2 separate regions of the Homo sapiens genome follow, and region 1 is linked to region 2. Evidence: fine-mapped QTL for protein levels in blood plasma. Region 2 holds a variant in brackets. A gene starts in the other region. All regions are shown on their forward strands.

Region 1 (8,321 bases), not on the chromosome of region 2:
AAGATCCCCATCTTTTAAAAACAAAATAAAACAATAAAGACTGCAAGGAAGACTGAGGGAACAGCGACCATTTTCCTTACAGGCCTTCCTCTCTAACTCCCACTTCCCAGCCCAACTCCCTGCACCAAGACCCTCAGAACTGGGCGGGGATAACACAAACCTCTGGAGCTGCATCCAGGCCAAAGGAAGGCGGTTGGGAGGGCTTAAGGAGCACTGTTCAGAATCAGAGATGAGCTGCCTTGAGCTTCCAACACGGTAGCTCGGCCTCAGGATGCTGCTGGTTACTATGGCAACTGCCTGCCGGAGCAGGACATAGTAGGGGAAGGTGGGCCAGAGACCCCAAAAATGTAGGAGCAGAGAGGGGTTCAGGATGGCTAGAGGTTGCTGACCCCGTTCCAGGCTGCCCTGCCCTCTGGGTGTCAGACAGCCCTTACCCGAAGAGAAGCGGAGGCCAGGGGTGGATGAGAGTGCTTTATTGGGCACCCAGCATGGGGGCTTGGCCCGAGGAGGACCATCGGGCCCCAAGACAATAAATAAACCATCATCTCCCTAAACAATAAATAAATATCCAAGAAATAAATAGCTGGCGAGGACCAGAGGGGCTTTCAGTTACTGGGTAGAGCCTGGGGCAGGGGGCTGGAAGAGCCCTCCCTTGTCCAAGGCTGATGATGCGAAGGCTGCCCTGATGCCAAGACTCCAGTCCTAAAGTTCTAAAGGGTGGGGGGCAGGGGGCTAAGAAGCCACCGATCAGGGCTGGGGGCTCAATGTTGGGAACCCCAAGGGCCAGACTGAGTGCCCAGCCTTGGACAGCAGCAGCAACTCCCGCACGGCCCGAGATAAGACGAGCTCCAAGGAGTGCAGCAGGCGGTAGGTGGAGAGGAGCTGGGGCCAGGACACCTGGGCCGGGCCCTGTAAGGCGCTGCCCAGTGCCCCTGGGAGCAGCCCCTTCCTCTCCTCCTCCTCCTCCTCCTCTTCCTCCTCCTCCTCCTCCGGGAGGTTGAATCCTGCAGCCAGCACCTGTGAGGAGAGGCCATGGGTCAGGGAGGGGCCAGGCCGAGAACCTGAGAGGAATCCTCATTCCCTATTCATGCCCAGCGGTTCCCAATGACATCAGTGACCACAAGGTCATGATTTCCCCGGACATTCCCTGCTTGATCTTCCATGATGTCACCTGCTAACGCGTCTCACCTGATCTTTCAGTTCGAGAAAATGGAAGTCAAGGAGCAAGAGGATGCTCACAGAGCTAGATCACCCCAAGGACTGCCCCGAGGCGTGGGGTTCAGGAAGTTTCTCTCTGCTGTGAAAGTTGCTTTTGGGTCGGGTCAGCAACAGGCAGAGGGTGACATAGCTCAGATTCCCTGCTGCTTGCCATTCCTCTCTCTCTCTCTTTCTTGGGAGCCCCGCTCTGTCGCCCAGGCTGGAGTGCAGTGGGGTGATCACGGCTCACTGCAACCTCTGTCTCCCCAGTTCAAGCAATTCTCCTACCTCAGCCTCCTGAGTAGCTGGGACTACAGACGCGCACCACCACGCCCGACTAATTTTTGTATTTTTAGTAGAGATGGGGTTTTACCATGTTGGCCAGGCTGGTCTCGAACTCCTGACCTCAAATGATCCACCCGCTTTGGCCTCCTAAAGTGCTGGGATTCCAGGCGTGAGCCACCACGCCCAGCCCTGCTGCTTGCATTTTCTATTCTCATTTCATTAAGTGTAAAATTCTGATTTCCCTTTGAAAGGTTCTGGAGGATCTGGGTGACATCAGAGAATCAGAGGGAGAAAGGAAACAGGAGGCAGACGCTGTGCTGGGCACTCAGGACACACCCCGAGTGACCTCACAGCCCAATGGCCTCCTGTTGAAGATAGAGCCCCAGGAGAATGTGAAGATTGAGGGGCAGCACCAGGGCCTGGTGTGGCTGTGTGTGCGCCTGCACACACGCACACACTCACACACATACTCATTCTCACAACGCACCCACACTCATTCCCATACAGTCACATTCACACAAAACACATTCATGGCTGGGCACAGTGGCTCACGCCTGTAATCCCAGCACTTTGGGAAGCCGAGGCGGGCAGAGCGCGAGGTCAGGAGTCTGAGACCAGCCTGGCCAACATGGTGAAACTAAAAATACAAAAAAATTAGCCAGGCATGATGGTGCACGCCTGTAGTCCTAGCTACTCAGGAGGCTGAGGCAGGAGAATTGCTTGAACCTGGGAGGCAGATGTTACAGTGAGCTGAGATCGCACCGCTGCACTCCAGCCTGGGCGACAGAGTGAGACTTAGTCTCAGAAAAAAAAAAAAATCGTTCACGTACCCACATACTCTCACACTCACACTCATCCTCACACACTGACATACCTATACCCAAACTCTCACCCACACACCTCACTTTCACACTCACAACACTCACATTCACACACCCACCCACACACTCCCACACTCTTACACTCACAGTCCCATACACTCACAGTCTCACACTCATGGACCTACACACACACGGTCACGCTCACACTCATACAGACCCACACACACTCACAGTCACACCCACACACTCACACACTCACAGCCACACACTTTCACACTCAGACCCACACACTCACAGTCACACTCACACACGGACGCACATACACACAGTCATGCTCACACTCATACAGCCCCCCCACACACACACTCACAGTCACACCCACACACTCTCACAGTCAGGTACACTCACACAGACCCACACACTCACTCTCACACTCACGGACCCACACCCTCACACACAGTCATGCTCACACTCATACAGACCCACATGCACTCACAGTCACTCCCACACACTCTCACACTCACAGACCCACACTCACACACTCTCACAGTCACACTGTCACACTCATGGACCCACACAGTCACACTCACTCTCCCACACTTACGGACCCACACAGTCACTCTCACACTCATGAACCCACACACTCATGGACACTCAGTCACACTCACACTCTCACACTCACACACACTCAGAGCATGGGATCACTGAATGAGCCAGCGAGTCTTCTTTCCCACGTGGTCTGGGGTGGTGGAGGGTGGCCGGGCTCTACCTGGAAGCGGAGGTGCCGCTGCAGATCGCGGAGGTCCAGCCTCATGGCCCACAGCTGCATCCTCTCCATGTTGGTCCAGCGGCCCTGGGTCCCCAGCCCTCCCAGCAGGGCATGGAAGGGCTGAAGCGTGGTGGAGATGAAGCAGAGACGCTCCGGGTCCTGAAGGGGAGGGAGATGGTCAGGAAAGGTCCACAGGCCAAGGATGGCCATATCACACCCACCCCCTCCCTATCCGGGTCTCCTTCCCATTCCACGCTCCAGCCTCCAGTCCATCCCTGTAGCTCTTCCCCCACCTCAGCCCAGCTGTGTCCCCATTCCTTCCATCTCCACTGTCTGGGACATTTGTCCCATCTCCTTTTCCAGCCTCCCTTTCACTCCTATGCCAATGATCTTCTCTAACCCACCCCCTCTCAGTCCCTGAAGCACTCTCCATCCACAGCCCTGTTCCCTTCCCTCCTCCACCATCCCATCATACCTCCTGCCCATGTGTTTCCATCCCATCTTCAGCCTCATTCCCATTCCTAACCCCAACTCCATCCTTCCTCCATGTGCCCAGACTCACTCTTTCCATCTTTCCATCCCATCTCCAACCTCATTCCTAACCCTATTCCATTCCCTTCCCCACCAGCAATCCCCATCCCTTCTCCATCCCATGCTTAACGTTCACCCTCATCATCACCTTCTCATCTCTAACTATCCGCATTCTCACCCCCAGTGCCACCTCCACCCACCCTCCATGCTGCTGTGATCTGTCTCCAGCCTCATTCCAGTCCCATGCCTGCCGCGTTCCATGCCTAGCTCCACTCTTACCTCTTCCCAACCCCACTTCCTTATTCCAGCTTCATCTTTATTGTTGGTTTGTTTTGAGATGGAGTCTCGCTCTGTTGCCCAGGCTGGAGTGCAGTGGCGCGATCTCATCTCACTGCAACCTCCACCTCCTGGGTTCAAGTAATTCTCCTGCCTCAGCCTCCCGAGTAGCTGGGATTACAGGCGCACAGCACCATACCCGGCTAATTTGGTATTTTTAGTAGAGGTGGGGTTTCTTCATGTTGGTCAGGCTGGTCTCGAACTCCTGACCTCAGGTGATCCACCCACATCAGCCTCCCACAGTGCTGGGATTACAGTCGTGAGCCACTGCGCTCAGCTAATTTTTGTATTTTTTAGTAGAGATGGGGTTTCGCCATGTTGGCCAGGCTGGTCTTGAACTCTTGACCTCAGGTGATCCGTGCTCCTCAGCCTCCCAACGTGCTGGGATTACAGGCATGAGCCACCACGCCTGGCAGTTTATTTATTTTTCTGAGACAGGGTTTCCCTCTGTTCTCCATCCTGGAGTCCAGGATCATAACTCACTGCAGCCTCCAACTCCTGAGCTCAAGCAATCCTCCCATGTCAGCCTCCTGAGTAGCTGGGACCAAAGGTGTACACCACCATGCCTGGCTAACTCTTAAATTTTTTTTTGTAGAGACAAAGTTTCACTATGTTGCCCAGACTGGTCTTGAACTCCTGGCCTCAAGCAGTCCTTCCACCTGGGCCTCCCAAAGTGCTGGGTTTATAGGTGTAAGTCACCATGCCTGTCTTTCATCTCTATGTCCAATGACATATTCAGCCTTATCCAGGTTCTATCCCCAATGCATCTCCAGCTCAATCTCCAGCCTCATCTTGCACCCTGGCCCCAGCCTATCACAAGCTTCCCGCCCCACTCCACCAGCCCTCACTCACAGAGAGGCGGCGCCAGGCCTGGAAGGTCAGGGAAACATCAGGGAGCTGCTCTCCCAGGGGCAGGAGGTACAGGTTCACTCCTGGCAGGTGAGATTCCGCCTGGGGGGCAAGGTCTGTTAGTGGGGGCCAGAAGGGATTGGGGGTCTGCCCATCTCCAGCGCCAGCTGCATTAGGGGGACTTACAAAGCGGTGGGCCTGGCCCCGAACCTCGGAGAGCAGCTTCCTGGCGAGATGCAGGCTGACTGTGAACTCCCTCCGCAGCTCCTGCAGGCTCAGCTGGGGCCTCCCTGGGGGCCTTGGGAATCCCCAGACACCAGCTTGAACCAGGAGCAAGGGAAGCAGCAACAGGCTGAGCCCTGGAGAGATGGGAAGAGGGTGGCAAGACAGGGAGAGAGCTTGAGAAGGAAGGGAACATGCCTTTTCTGAGCCTGTGCTAGCTGTGAGCACGGTGCAGGCACTTTGACCAGCATCATTCCTCTGCCTCCTCAAAACCACAATGGAGGCTGGGTGCGGTGACTCACACCTGTAATCCCAACAATTTAGGAGACCGAGGCGGGCGGATCACCTGAGGCCAGGAGTTCAAGACCAGCCTGGCCAACATGGCGAAACCCTGTCTCTACTAAAAATACAAAAATTAGTTGGGCGTGGTGGTGCATGCCTGTAATCCCAGCTACTCAGGAGGTTGAGGCAGGAGAATCGCTTGAACCTGGGAGGCAGAGGCTGCAGTGAGCTAACACCACTGTGCTCCAGCCTGGGCGACAGAGCCAGACTCTGTCTCAAAAAAACAAAACAAAACAAAACAAAACAAAACCCCACGATGCAGCCAGCACGGCCCCCATATGGCATCTCCGCATGGTGTGCCCACTTTTGCAAAAAGACCAGAAGCCTGATCCTTTTTTTTTTTTTTTGAAACAGAGTTCTGTTCTATCACCCAGCCTGGAGTGTAGTGGTGTGATCACAGCTCACTGTAGCCTTGAACTCCTAGGCTCAAGTGATCCTCTCGCCTCAGCCTCCCAAGTAGCTGGGATCACAGGGACACACCACTGTGCCTAACTGTTTCTATTTTTTTGTAGAGACAGGGTCTCACTATGTTGCCCAGGCTGGTCTTGAACTCCTGGCCTCAAGAGATCTTCCCGCCTCAGCCTCCCAAATTGCTGGGATCACAGGCATGAGCCACTGTGCCGGGACAGAGACTGGATTTTGACCCCCATAAACTCCCTTGGCCAAATGCCTTTTTCAGTGAGCAACCTGCACAACCACGTGTGGCAGCCTCAGTGCTATTGTTCTCCCCAATTTGCAGGTGAGGCTCAGTGAGGTTGACTTGCCCAAGGTCAAATAGCCAGAAGGTGGGAAGCCAGGACTGGATTCCAGGTTTTTCCAAATGCAGAGCCCATGGGTTTTCCCCAGAGAATGCAGAGGGAGGCAGCCATCTGCCCCAGGAGTGGGCACACCATGTTCTGGCAAGGATTCTTTGGGCTCAGCCAAGCGGCTCTGATGGCTTGAACTGGCCATGAGGTCCCCAGGGATGGGCTGGCAATGCCAGAGGCTCTATTCCAGGGAGTCAAAAGGACAGGTTTGTCCAGTTTCCACCACGGCAGGTGGATCCTAGCAGGGTAACCTGCCTGGGGCGAATCCACAGTATGGGAGCTTTTTTTTTTTTAAGACAGATTCTCACTCTGTCACCCAGGCTGCAGTGCAGTGGCGCGATCTCGACTCACTGCAACCTTCACCTCCCAGGTTAAAGCAATTCTCCTGCCTCAGCCTCCTGAGTAGCCACCACGCCTGGCTAATTTTTATTATATTTAGTAGAGAGGGGTTTTGCCGTGTTGGCCAGGCTGGTCTCCAACTCCTGACCTCAGGTGATCCGCCTGCCTTGGCCTCCCAAAGTGCTGGGATTACAGACATCAGCCACTGCGCCCAGCCCAGAATGGCTGAATTCCGAGTGTGCTTCCTGACCTGTGTTTTCCTGGAAAGAGGGGCAGCGGATGGGCGCTCTAGGAAGAGGGCAGCATTCATCAATTTCCCCCTCAGGGAGAGGAAATCTAGCAAGCACAAGAGTTACACAATTCTCCTCGAAACACAAACCAAAACTGGCCCGAAGTCCATCCTGCTCTCCCTTCTCTCCCTGCCTCTTCCCTGTCCTCTCTCAATCTCTAACCCCTGGGCTCTGCTCTTCGAAATGTCCCCTGATAAAGGTGAAGGGGAGCTTCTAGGGACATCTACCTCCCTCGTGGGCTTGCAGATGTGGTGGGCGATGCCTAACGTAAGATCTCTGGCATTCAGACTCCCTGGTTTTGGGGCCACTCGGACCCTCTGACATCCTGGAGACTTAAGGCAGAGTGGGGTTCTTCCTAGCTCAATGTTGGGGACAGGGTGGGTGCCCCCAGGCCCTGGTGGATCAAGCCCAACCGTAAGTGAGCTGTGCCATCTCCAACCTGACCTCTGGAGACCCCAGACCCCCTCCTTACCCTCTGCAGCTGATCCTGGGTCATTGGCTCTGGCCTTTGAAGGCTCTGTCTCCATCCTCCAGCCTTTGGTCCCTACCTGCCCTACGTGGCATGTTACCTTCTCCACTGCCTACTGCTCTGGTTCTAGCCCCTGAGTTCTGCAGCCACCAGCCGCAGATTGGACCTCTTTCCAACATCAAACTAAAGACCTTTGACCCAGTGAGGCTGCTGACATCTTGGTCCCAGTGCTCCACTTGTGCCAGCACCTCGTTCTGCTCTTCCTCCAGCCGGCCCCATTCTCAGTCTTAGCCAAGCTGTTTGGCTTCTGCTTATTCACTCCAAACTCTTCATTTATCTGCCTAGACCTGGTCCTTGTCAAATTGCTGGTCCAACCCTCCCCATTCCCACTAGCCAAGGCCTCCTTCTCATCCTCTGCCCAGCCCTGGGTCAGACCACCACCCCACTGCCCCAGGCCCCCACCCAGTCATGCCAGCCTCCCTTCCCATGCAGCAGCCAGCCGAATCCTCAGTCTTGGCCAAGTTGCTGCTCTCAGCTCTCGACCCCCCATCTGCACCAGCCAAGCTCGTCCATTCTCTGCCCAAACTCAACCAAGCCCCCCACCCCTGGCTTCAAACTCACGCCAGCCAAGGTCGCCTGCCGTCTGGCCCATGGCGGGGCCCAGCCTCTTTGGTCAGCCATCTCCTGGGTAGGGGGGGTCTTATACTGGGGGCTGTGCCCGGTTTCACTTTCCGTCCTGCTTGTACTTTCAGCTTTGTGTTCACTCATTCTTCCCTCTCGCCACCCCTTGCTAAAATGGGGAAATGTAATTTCCCTTCCCGGAGGGGGTGGGAGGTATGATGGGGGGTGACGGGAAGCTGGGGTTTCGGGACATCCAAGCTCCAGACTCACTGCTAAGCTCCCACGTCCAGCCCTGTCCTCAATGTCCCATGCTTGGGTGAGCCATCCAGCCCTATTCACTGGTTGATCCCAGAGTCCCAAACCCCCTCCTGATTCTCGGCTCTGCCACCATCATCCTAGGGTCTACTGTCCTTCCAAAGATGGATAGCCAGGTAAGGGGATTGC
Region 2 (8,329 bases):
GCTGGTCTTGAGCTCCTCAAGCAATGTGCCCATCTCCACCTCCCAAAGTGTTGGGATTACAGGCGTGAGCCACCATTCCCAGCCAAAAAAGAGAAGTTCTGTATGAAGAGATATCATGATTGGAGAGCTCAGAGCCCCAACTTGGCCTCTCTCTGGACCCTAGAAAAGGGTTTCCCATTTTACCCACTGCTCCAGTGACTTCTAAGTCATCTTAGCAGAAATTTAGGACTCCAATAAATCAATCTTAAAAATGCTAGTTTACAGTGATGGTTTTCAACCTCCTTCCTCCCTGCTGTAATATTGACATGTAGAACACACTCCTGTGGTCAAATCCAAATTTCATGGGTTAGACATACTGTCAGATGGGCCAGTCTTGGCTAAGCAGTGAAATTCCACCTTTCTATTGCATATTATATTGCTAGTGAGTGACAATATTCCAAAGAAAGCCTTGAATCCACTGGGACTTGCAGTGTAAGTAAATAATTTACAGTCTACAGCATTTTTCCTCCTCTCAGGATGAACAAGTTTAGAGATTATGTAGTGTTACTGTGTTAATGGCTCCTTCTGGACCAAGGTCAGCTCTACAGGCTCCATCTTTTCCATCCCAAGGGGACTGGATAAATAGGGTTGAGTCTTAATCAGAATGAATATAATTGCGAGGGCACCAGTCTTGGTCTGTGACCAGGGCTCAGACCCTCTGGGGCAGTTCTGTCTTTGTGTCCTAAGCCTCTATCAGAACAAGGCCAGCTTTTCACTGTTCCTCTTCCTCAAGGATATTCCATCAGGAGCGAGGGAAACCTCTTTGCTTTTCCCCCTAAAATTTAGACAGAGGATTGAGTGGGAGCCTAGTTATCATTGATTCAATTACCTTATTTTACTTAGAGAAACAAGTTTATTACATCAGAACATTCTTCTGGTTGGATATCCTGACTAACACGAAGTTCTTTGCTTTTTGGTTTTGGTTTTGGTTTTTTTGTGAGATGGAGTCTTGATCTGTCGCCCAGACTAGAGTGCAGTGATGCCATCTGCAACCTCCGCCATCTGGGTTCAAGCAATTCTCCTGCTTCAGCCTCCCAAGTAGCTGGGATTATAGGCGCCCACCACCACAGCTGGCTAATTTTTGTATTTTTAGTAGGATGGGGTTTCACCATGTTAGCCAGGCTGGTCTCGAACTCCTGACCTCAGCTGATCTGCCCGCTTCTGCCTCCCAAAGTGCTGGGATTACAGGTGTGAGCCACTGCGCCCAGCCTTACAAAGTTATTTTTTATTTACTATTTACTTGAACCAAGAGGATAGTTGCTGTTTGAAATCTAACATGTCAGCATGGCTTTTGCTTCATTTTCAAGGGAGAAAAAAACCCCAGAATACTCCATTTGGGAAACTCCCAATTAAAAGGCTTACACCTGCTTTGCTTTTCTTTCCCCAGTCTCTAAATTTAGACATTCACAAATAGAACATTTCAAACTATCCCACACAGCGTGATCACCAGGGGTGGCAGTGATGCTTAGAGAATGCCTAGTTATTTTCAGGAGCAGGCCCACCAGCAGGGTGAAACCACTCACATTACCAAGGACTTCCATTATAGGCCTCTTGGAGAGTGAGGCCTAGGAATATGGAATGGGATCCTCTGATTGGAAGAGTAAGGGAAATCAGGGAGGGTATAGTAATGATAAAGTAGTCAAAGGTCATATAGAAGGGGAAAAGGGGCCAGGTGTGGTGGCTCACACCTGTAATCCCAGCACTTTGGGAGGCTGAGGTGGGCAGATCACAAGGCCAGGAGTTCGAGACCAGCCTGACCAACATGGTAAAACCCTGTCTCTACTAAAAATACAAAAATTGGCCAGGGGTGGTGGCACGTGCCTGTAATCCCAGCTACTCAGGAGACTGAGGCAGGAGAATCGCTTGAACCCAGGAGGAAGAGGTTGCAGTGAGCCAAGATTGTGCCACTGCACTCCAGCCTGGAGGGTAAAAGAGCAAGACTCTGTCTCAAAAAAAAAAAAAAAGAAAGAAAGGGAAAAGAAAAAACTAAGGGTTAGATTCCCTGAACTTTTTTTTTTTTTTTTTTGAGACGGAGTCTCGCTCTGTCACCCAAGCTGGAGTGCAGTGGCACTATCTCAGCTCACTGCAACCTCTGCCTCCCAGGCTCATGCCATTCTCCTGCCTCAGCCTCCCAAGTAGCTGGGACTGCAGGCGCCCGCCACCACGCCTGGCTAATTTTTTGTATTTTTAGTAGAGATGGGGTTTCACCATGTTAGCCAGGATGGTCTCGATCTCCTGACCTCGTGATCCGCCCGCCTCGGCCTCCCAAAGTGCTGGGATTACAGGCGTGAGCCACCGCGCCCAGTCCCGAAAACTAAGGGTTAGATTCCTTGAACTTTTTTTTTGTTTGTTTGTTTTGGAGACAGGGTCTCTTGCTCTGTCACCCAGGCTGGAGCAGGCAGGACAATAGTTCACTGTAACCTTGAACTCTTAAACTCCTTCAAGGGATCCTCCCAAATAGCTAAGTCTATGACATGTGCCACTACACCCAGCTAAATTTTGTATTTTTATTTTGTAGAGATGGGGCCTCACTGTGTTGCCCAGGCTAGTCTCAAACTCCTGACCTCAAGCAATCCTCCCGTCTCAGCTTCCCAAAGTGCTGGGATTACAGGTGTGAGACACCACACCCAGCCTGAGCCTCTTTCTATAGCTAATTGTTGGTAAGCACACAGCTTATCACGAGTAAGACAGACGTCTCTATAGAATGCTTCTGTCCACAGTCTAGTGTAGTAGAAAGAATGTTGGAATAAGAATCAGAAGGCCTGCATCTTCATCCCGATTCCATCAATCACTACCTGTGAGAATGTAAATTATTTTCTCTCTAAGTGTAATAGCTATAAAACAGAGATGGATAACACTGCTTGGTGCATTTCACATGATGTCATGATCAACTGAAACTGGCTGTGAAATAATTCTGGAAAATTGTTAAGAACCATGCAACCAAATGATACTGCTTTCATATCCTTCACCACAATCACCACTAATATCAAACATTTAACCAGGCACGGTGGCTCACGCCTGTAATCCCAGCACTTTGGGAGGCTGAGGCAGGCAGATCACGAAGTCAGGAGTTTGAGACCAGCCTGGTCAAACGGTGAAACCCCGTCTCTACTAAAAATACAAAAATTAGCTGGGCATGGTGGTGTGCATCTTTAATCCCAGCTACTCAGGAGGCTGAGGCAGGAGAATCTCTTGGACCTGGGAGGCGAAGGCTGCAGTGAGCTGAGATCGCACCATTACACTCCAGCCTGGGCGACAGAGCGAGACTCTGTCTTAAAAAAAAAAAAAAATCACTTAGTGTGTGCTCCATGGAGGGCTCTATGCTGAGGAGAAAATAAATACAAAGACACGGAAGAAATATATATTATTGCTCTAGATGGGTTAATACTGAGTTGAGTTGATGCTTAATTCTTGCTTGTTTAGTTGATGTAAAGATGGCTTAGCAGTCTTTCTGCAAGAAATTCCAGATGCTGATTTACCTGCTTTGTTTGCAAATTTCATCTCCTACCTGACTTTTCCAGTTGTCTGGAAGGGGCAGGTGGTGGTTGGGG[C/T]CTCCGTACTTCTCGTTATAGTAGATATAGGTATTGAGATCAGGGAAGTTGCGGTTCAGGTCCACTCCATTTGCATTGTTCCTGCCAACTAGATACCCAGGCTTGTTTGGGCCCTAAAGGAAAATGAAAAGATGAAAAATGAAGGTTTCAGATTGAATACTATATTTTCTAACTTTTTTTTTTGGAGACAGGTTCTCACACTGTTGCCCAGGCTGAAGTGCAGTGGTACAATCTTGGCTTACTGCAACCTCTACCTACTGGGCTCAAGCAATCCTCCCACCTCAGTCTCCTGAGTAGCTGGGACTACAAGCACACACCACCACACCCGCTAATTGTTCTTTATTCTTTTCTTTTTTTGGTAGAGATGAGGCTGGTTGCCCAGGCTGGTATCAAACTCCTGGGCTCAAGTGATCCACCCACCTCGCCCTTCCAAAGTGCTGAGAGGCCAGGTGCAGTGGCTCACACCTGTAATCTCAGCACTTTGGGAGGCGGAGGCAGGTGGATCACTTGAGGTCAGAAGTTCAAGATCAGCCTGGCCAAAATGGTGAAACACCATCTCTACTAAAAAATACAAAAATTAGCTGGGTGTGGTGGCGTGTGCCTGTAGTCCCAGCTACTTGGGAGGCTGAGGCACGAGAATCACTTAAACTCAGGAAGTGAGGTTGCAATGGGCCAAGAACATGCCATTGCACTACAGCCTGGGTGACAGAGCAAGGCTCTGTCTAAAAAAAACAAACCAAACAAAGTGCTGAGATTACAGGCAAGAGCTACTACATGCAGCCATGAATCCTATATTTGAAGCACATTGTATAGTTCTTAGATATTAGCTTAATCAAATGATGTAGCATTTTTTTTCCTTTAGTCCCCGTCACAAGAAGATGAATCATTTTCTACTTTGACTTATCCAAAGTCACAGTGGTGGACTTCAAGTTCCCTGCAGATCACGTGTAAGAGGTACATATCTCAAGAGAAGTTCTAATAAGAGTAGGGTGTTTCGGGATCATGGGAACCCCAATGTTTTATGAACAGCTTTATTGAGATATAATTCACATACTATAAAATTTGCTCATTTTAAATGTACAATTCAATGAATTTTAGTATGTTTACGGAGTTGTATAATCATCATTGCAATCTAATTTTAGAACATTTCTGTCACACCAAATAGACACCTCATTCCCATTTACAGTCACTTCTCATTTTCATCCTAGCGTAGGTAATAACTTTATCTCTCCTTAGACTTGCCTCTTCTGGACAGATCACATAAGTGGGTCATACATTATCTGTTCTTTTGTGGGTTTTTCCCCCACACTGGGCATAATGTTTGTGAGGTTCATGTATGTTGTAGCATGTATCAGTACTTCATTTCTTTCTATTGCTGAATAGTTCCATTATGTGGATTTATCACATTTTGTTTATCCATTCACCAGTATTAGTATTAGTTTAATACTATTAGTATTAGGAAACTGTGTTAGTTTCCTAGGGCTGCCATAACAATCACCACAAACTAGGTGGTTTATAACAACAGCAATTTATTCTCCAATTTATTCTCTGGAGGCTAGAAGTTGTAATCAAGTCAACTGGATGGGCGGCACGCTCTCTGGTCCCCTTCTTTGTTTCTTCCAGGTTCTGGTGGCCAGAGGAAGTCCTTGGCATTCTTTGGCTCTTAGACCCATCACTCTAATTTCTGCTTTCATCTTCATATGGCCTCCTCCCCAGTCTGTCTGCATCTCTATTCGCAAATTTCTTTCTTCTTACAAGGACACCAGTTATGCTGGATTTAGAGTCCATCCTGATTCTAGGTGACCTCATCTCAATTGTATCCGTAAAGACCCTCAGTAGGCCCTCCATATCCATGGGTTCCACATGTGTGGATTCAACCAACCTCTGATTGAAAATGTAGTTAGGCCTATGATGGTTGCATCTGTACTGAATATGTACATACTTTTTTCTTGTCATTATTCCTTAAACAGTACATTATAACAACTGTTTACATAGCATTTACATTGTACTGGGTAACATAAGTAACCTAGGGATGATTTAAAGTATACAGGAGGATGTGCATAAGTTATGTGCAAATACTATGCCATTTTATATAAGGGACTTGAGCATCCAAGGATTTTGATATTGGTGGGGGGCCCTGGAATCAATCACCTACGGATACTGAAGGATGACTATGTATTTCCAAATAAGATCATAGTCACAGATTTCAGGTGAATGCGAATTTTGGCGAAGGGTGGTAGGGGGAGATTCATGGACATTTGGGTTGTTTTCACCTTTTGGCTATTGTTAATAATGCTGCTTTGAACATCCACGTACAAGTCTTTGTGTGGATGTATGTTTTCATTTCCTCTGGGTAGATATCTGTAAGTAGAACTGCCGAGTCATAAGCTAAGTCCATGTTTAACTGTTTTTTGTTGTTTGTTTTTGTTTTTGTTTTGAGACAGGGTCTCACTCTGTTGCCTAGGCTGGAGTATAACAGCATGATCATGGCTCACTGCAGCCTCAACCTCCTGGGCTCAGGTGATCCTCCCACCTCAGCCTCCTGGTAGCTGGTGTTTACAGGCACGCGCCACAACACCTGGCTAATTTTAAATTATTTGTAAAGATGGGGTTTTGCCATGTTGCCTACGCTGGTCTCAAACTTCTAGGCTCAAGTGATCCACCCACCTCCCAAAGTGCTGGGATTAACAGACGTGAGCCACTACGGCCTTATGTTTAACTTTTTGAGAAACTGTTAAACTGTTTTTCAAAGTGGTTACACTATGGAAACTCACTCCTCCCCCCTTCAAAAAATTTAGGATGCTTACTTATCTTTCTTTTGAGCAATATCAACTTTCTGGATCCCTTAATTTCTCTGTCCATATTTCAGATTTTATCATTTATTTGCTCATGTATTCACTCACTCATTAGGTCATCTATTTAGTCAACCAACATTTACTTAAGTCCTTCTCTATTCAGAGCTCTCAGATAGACACTGGGGAAAGAGATAAGTGAGACATTGTAGTCTAGCCTTCTAGGAATTCATAGTACACATGGGGAGATGGACACACACATAAATAATTAAATACATAGAGTGATAGAATAGAGATATGTTAAAAGGCTCATTCAAAATTGAAATTCCATTTAATGTTTTGTGTGGCATTGGAGAAGGGAAATAGTGCCAACTGGGTCCCTGTAGACTGAGAAGGTGGAGCCCAAATTGTTGGCTGTTCCTGGAAGTGAATGAATGGATGCCGGGAAGCTACAATCTCACAGATGAATCGCCGTTCTCATATTTTCCCTTTTCTAACCAATAAAATGCGGCAGATTACATTTTTTTCTAAGAATTCAGTATTATTCTCAGATTTCTCCTCTTTTCATGGCACCCTGCTTGTATTTCATTTTTAGATCCTATTGAAAACATAATTGTTTTGAAGTTCCTTTAAGTTTCCTACATCAGTTGTGTTCCAGTGGAAAACATTTATTGGATCTTTCATTTTGGTGTACACTTCTGTGACATAATGATTTTCTTTATGCTTCCAGGGGCTTGTCACTGCTTGCTTATTTATATCAAGGCAACTCTTGACTGTCAGCATAAACAGCTATGGGCATTATCCACTGATTTCCCTGCACACTGGTCAATAGTTAAGTTGGCAGGAAGGGGCTTCCCCTAACAGAAGGTTTCATAAACAGGGCTAGTGTTGTGTTTCCTATTACTGCTGTAACAAATTACCCCAAATTTAGTGGTTTAAAACAGCACGAGTGTATTGTCTCATAGTTTTGGAGGTCAGAAGACTAAAACGGGTCTCACAGGCCTAAAAGCAAGGTGTCTCTCCAGTTTCTAGAGATCATTCACATTCCTTGGCTCTTCCATCTTTTTTTTTTTTTTTTTTTTTTGAGACAGAGTTTTGCTCTTGTTGCCCAGGCTGGAGTGCAATGGCGTGATCTCAGCTCACCGCAACCTTCATCTCCCAGGTTCAAGTGATTCTCCTGCCTCAGCCTCCCGAGTAGCTGGGATTACAGGCATGTGTTACCACGCCTGGCTAATTTTGTATTTTTAGTAGAGACAGGGTTTCTCCATGTTGGTCAGGCTGGTCTTGAACTTCTGACCTCAGGTGATCCTCCTACTTCAGCCTCCCAAAGTGCTGGGATTACAGGCCTGAGCCACGGCGCCCAGCCAAGGCTCTTCCATCTTTAAAGCCAGCCGTGTAACATCTTCAGAGCTCTCTCTGACTGTGACCTTTGGCCTCCCTCTTCTACATTTAAAGGACCCTCGTAATTGATTACACTGGGCCCCATCCCCCCCCCACAATACTCCAGGTTATTTTAAGGTCAACTGATTAGCAACCTTAGTTCCATCTGCAACCTTAATTCCTCCTTGCCCAGTAACATAACATATTCATAGGTTCTGAGGATTAGGACATGGACATCTTTGGTGGGGGGCATTATTCTGGCCACCTACAAGTGGCTTCAAAGTCTGGTGGCCAGGAAGTTCTTCTCTGTGTAGCCACGCAGACAGCTTGCCTCTGGGCATGGCAGGTATCTCTGAGAGTCTGAGAACCTGATGGGTCCTCTCGGGTTCAGGTTCAAGATCTGCTCCCTCTGAACAAGAACACAGCAGGTGAGCAGAGGTGACCAGCTTCCCAGAGATGGCTCTAAGATTCAGTGGACTGGCAGGGATTTTCCCCACTCCCTCCCACCCCACCTACTGCAAAGGATGTGGGCAGGACTGTGCAATGGCACGATCTCGGCTCACCACA

Direction of the effects. Positions count from the first base shown, and alleles are read on the strand shown. Strength reflects both the effect of a copy and how common the allele is.
For the plasma level of the protein whose gene starts at base 7,931 in region 1, allele T in region 2 goes with a lower level than allele C (moderate association).

The links. PIP is the posterior inclusion probability: the model's chance that the variant is causal. Protein levels are from antibody-based Olink assays in UK Biobank. Linkage for the fine-mapping came from a reference panel and not from the study's own genotypes, which makes the PIPs less certain.
Region 1: it holds the start of IL27, and the variant in region 2 is fine-mapped to the plasma level of the IL27 protein (UK Biobank, PIP 0.98).

Annotation. Positions count from the first base shown.
Region 1 is chr16:28,498,904-28,507,224 of GRCh38, forward strand. It overlaps IL27 (interleukin 27), which reads right to left and starts at 7,931. Exons shown (of 5, transcript NM_145659.3): 1 at 7,878-7,931; 2 at 4,975-5,147; 3 at 4,792-4,890; 4 at 3,073-3,231; 5 at 459-1,017. The coding sequence starts at 7,908. The coding sequence ends at 748. It overlaps APOBR (apolipoprotein B receptor), which reads left to right. Exons shown (of 4, transcript NM_018690.4): 4 at 1-61. RefSeq lists enhancers at 360-860, 861-1,361.
Region 2 is chr10:100,066,167-100,074,495 of GRCh38, forward strand. CPN1 (carboxypeptidase N subunit 1) reads right to left here. Exons shown (of 9, transcript NM_001308.3): 3 at 3,548-3,703. Among named protein-coding and RNA genes, the nearest start is that of CPN1, 12 kb to the right of the region's middle. The variant C/T (reference allele first, on the strand shown) is at 3,591.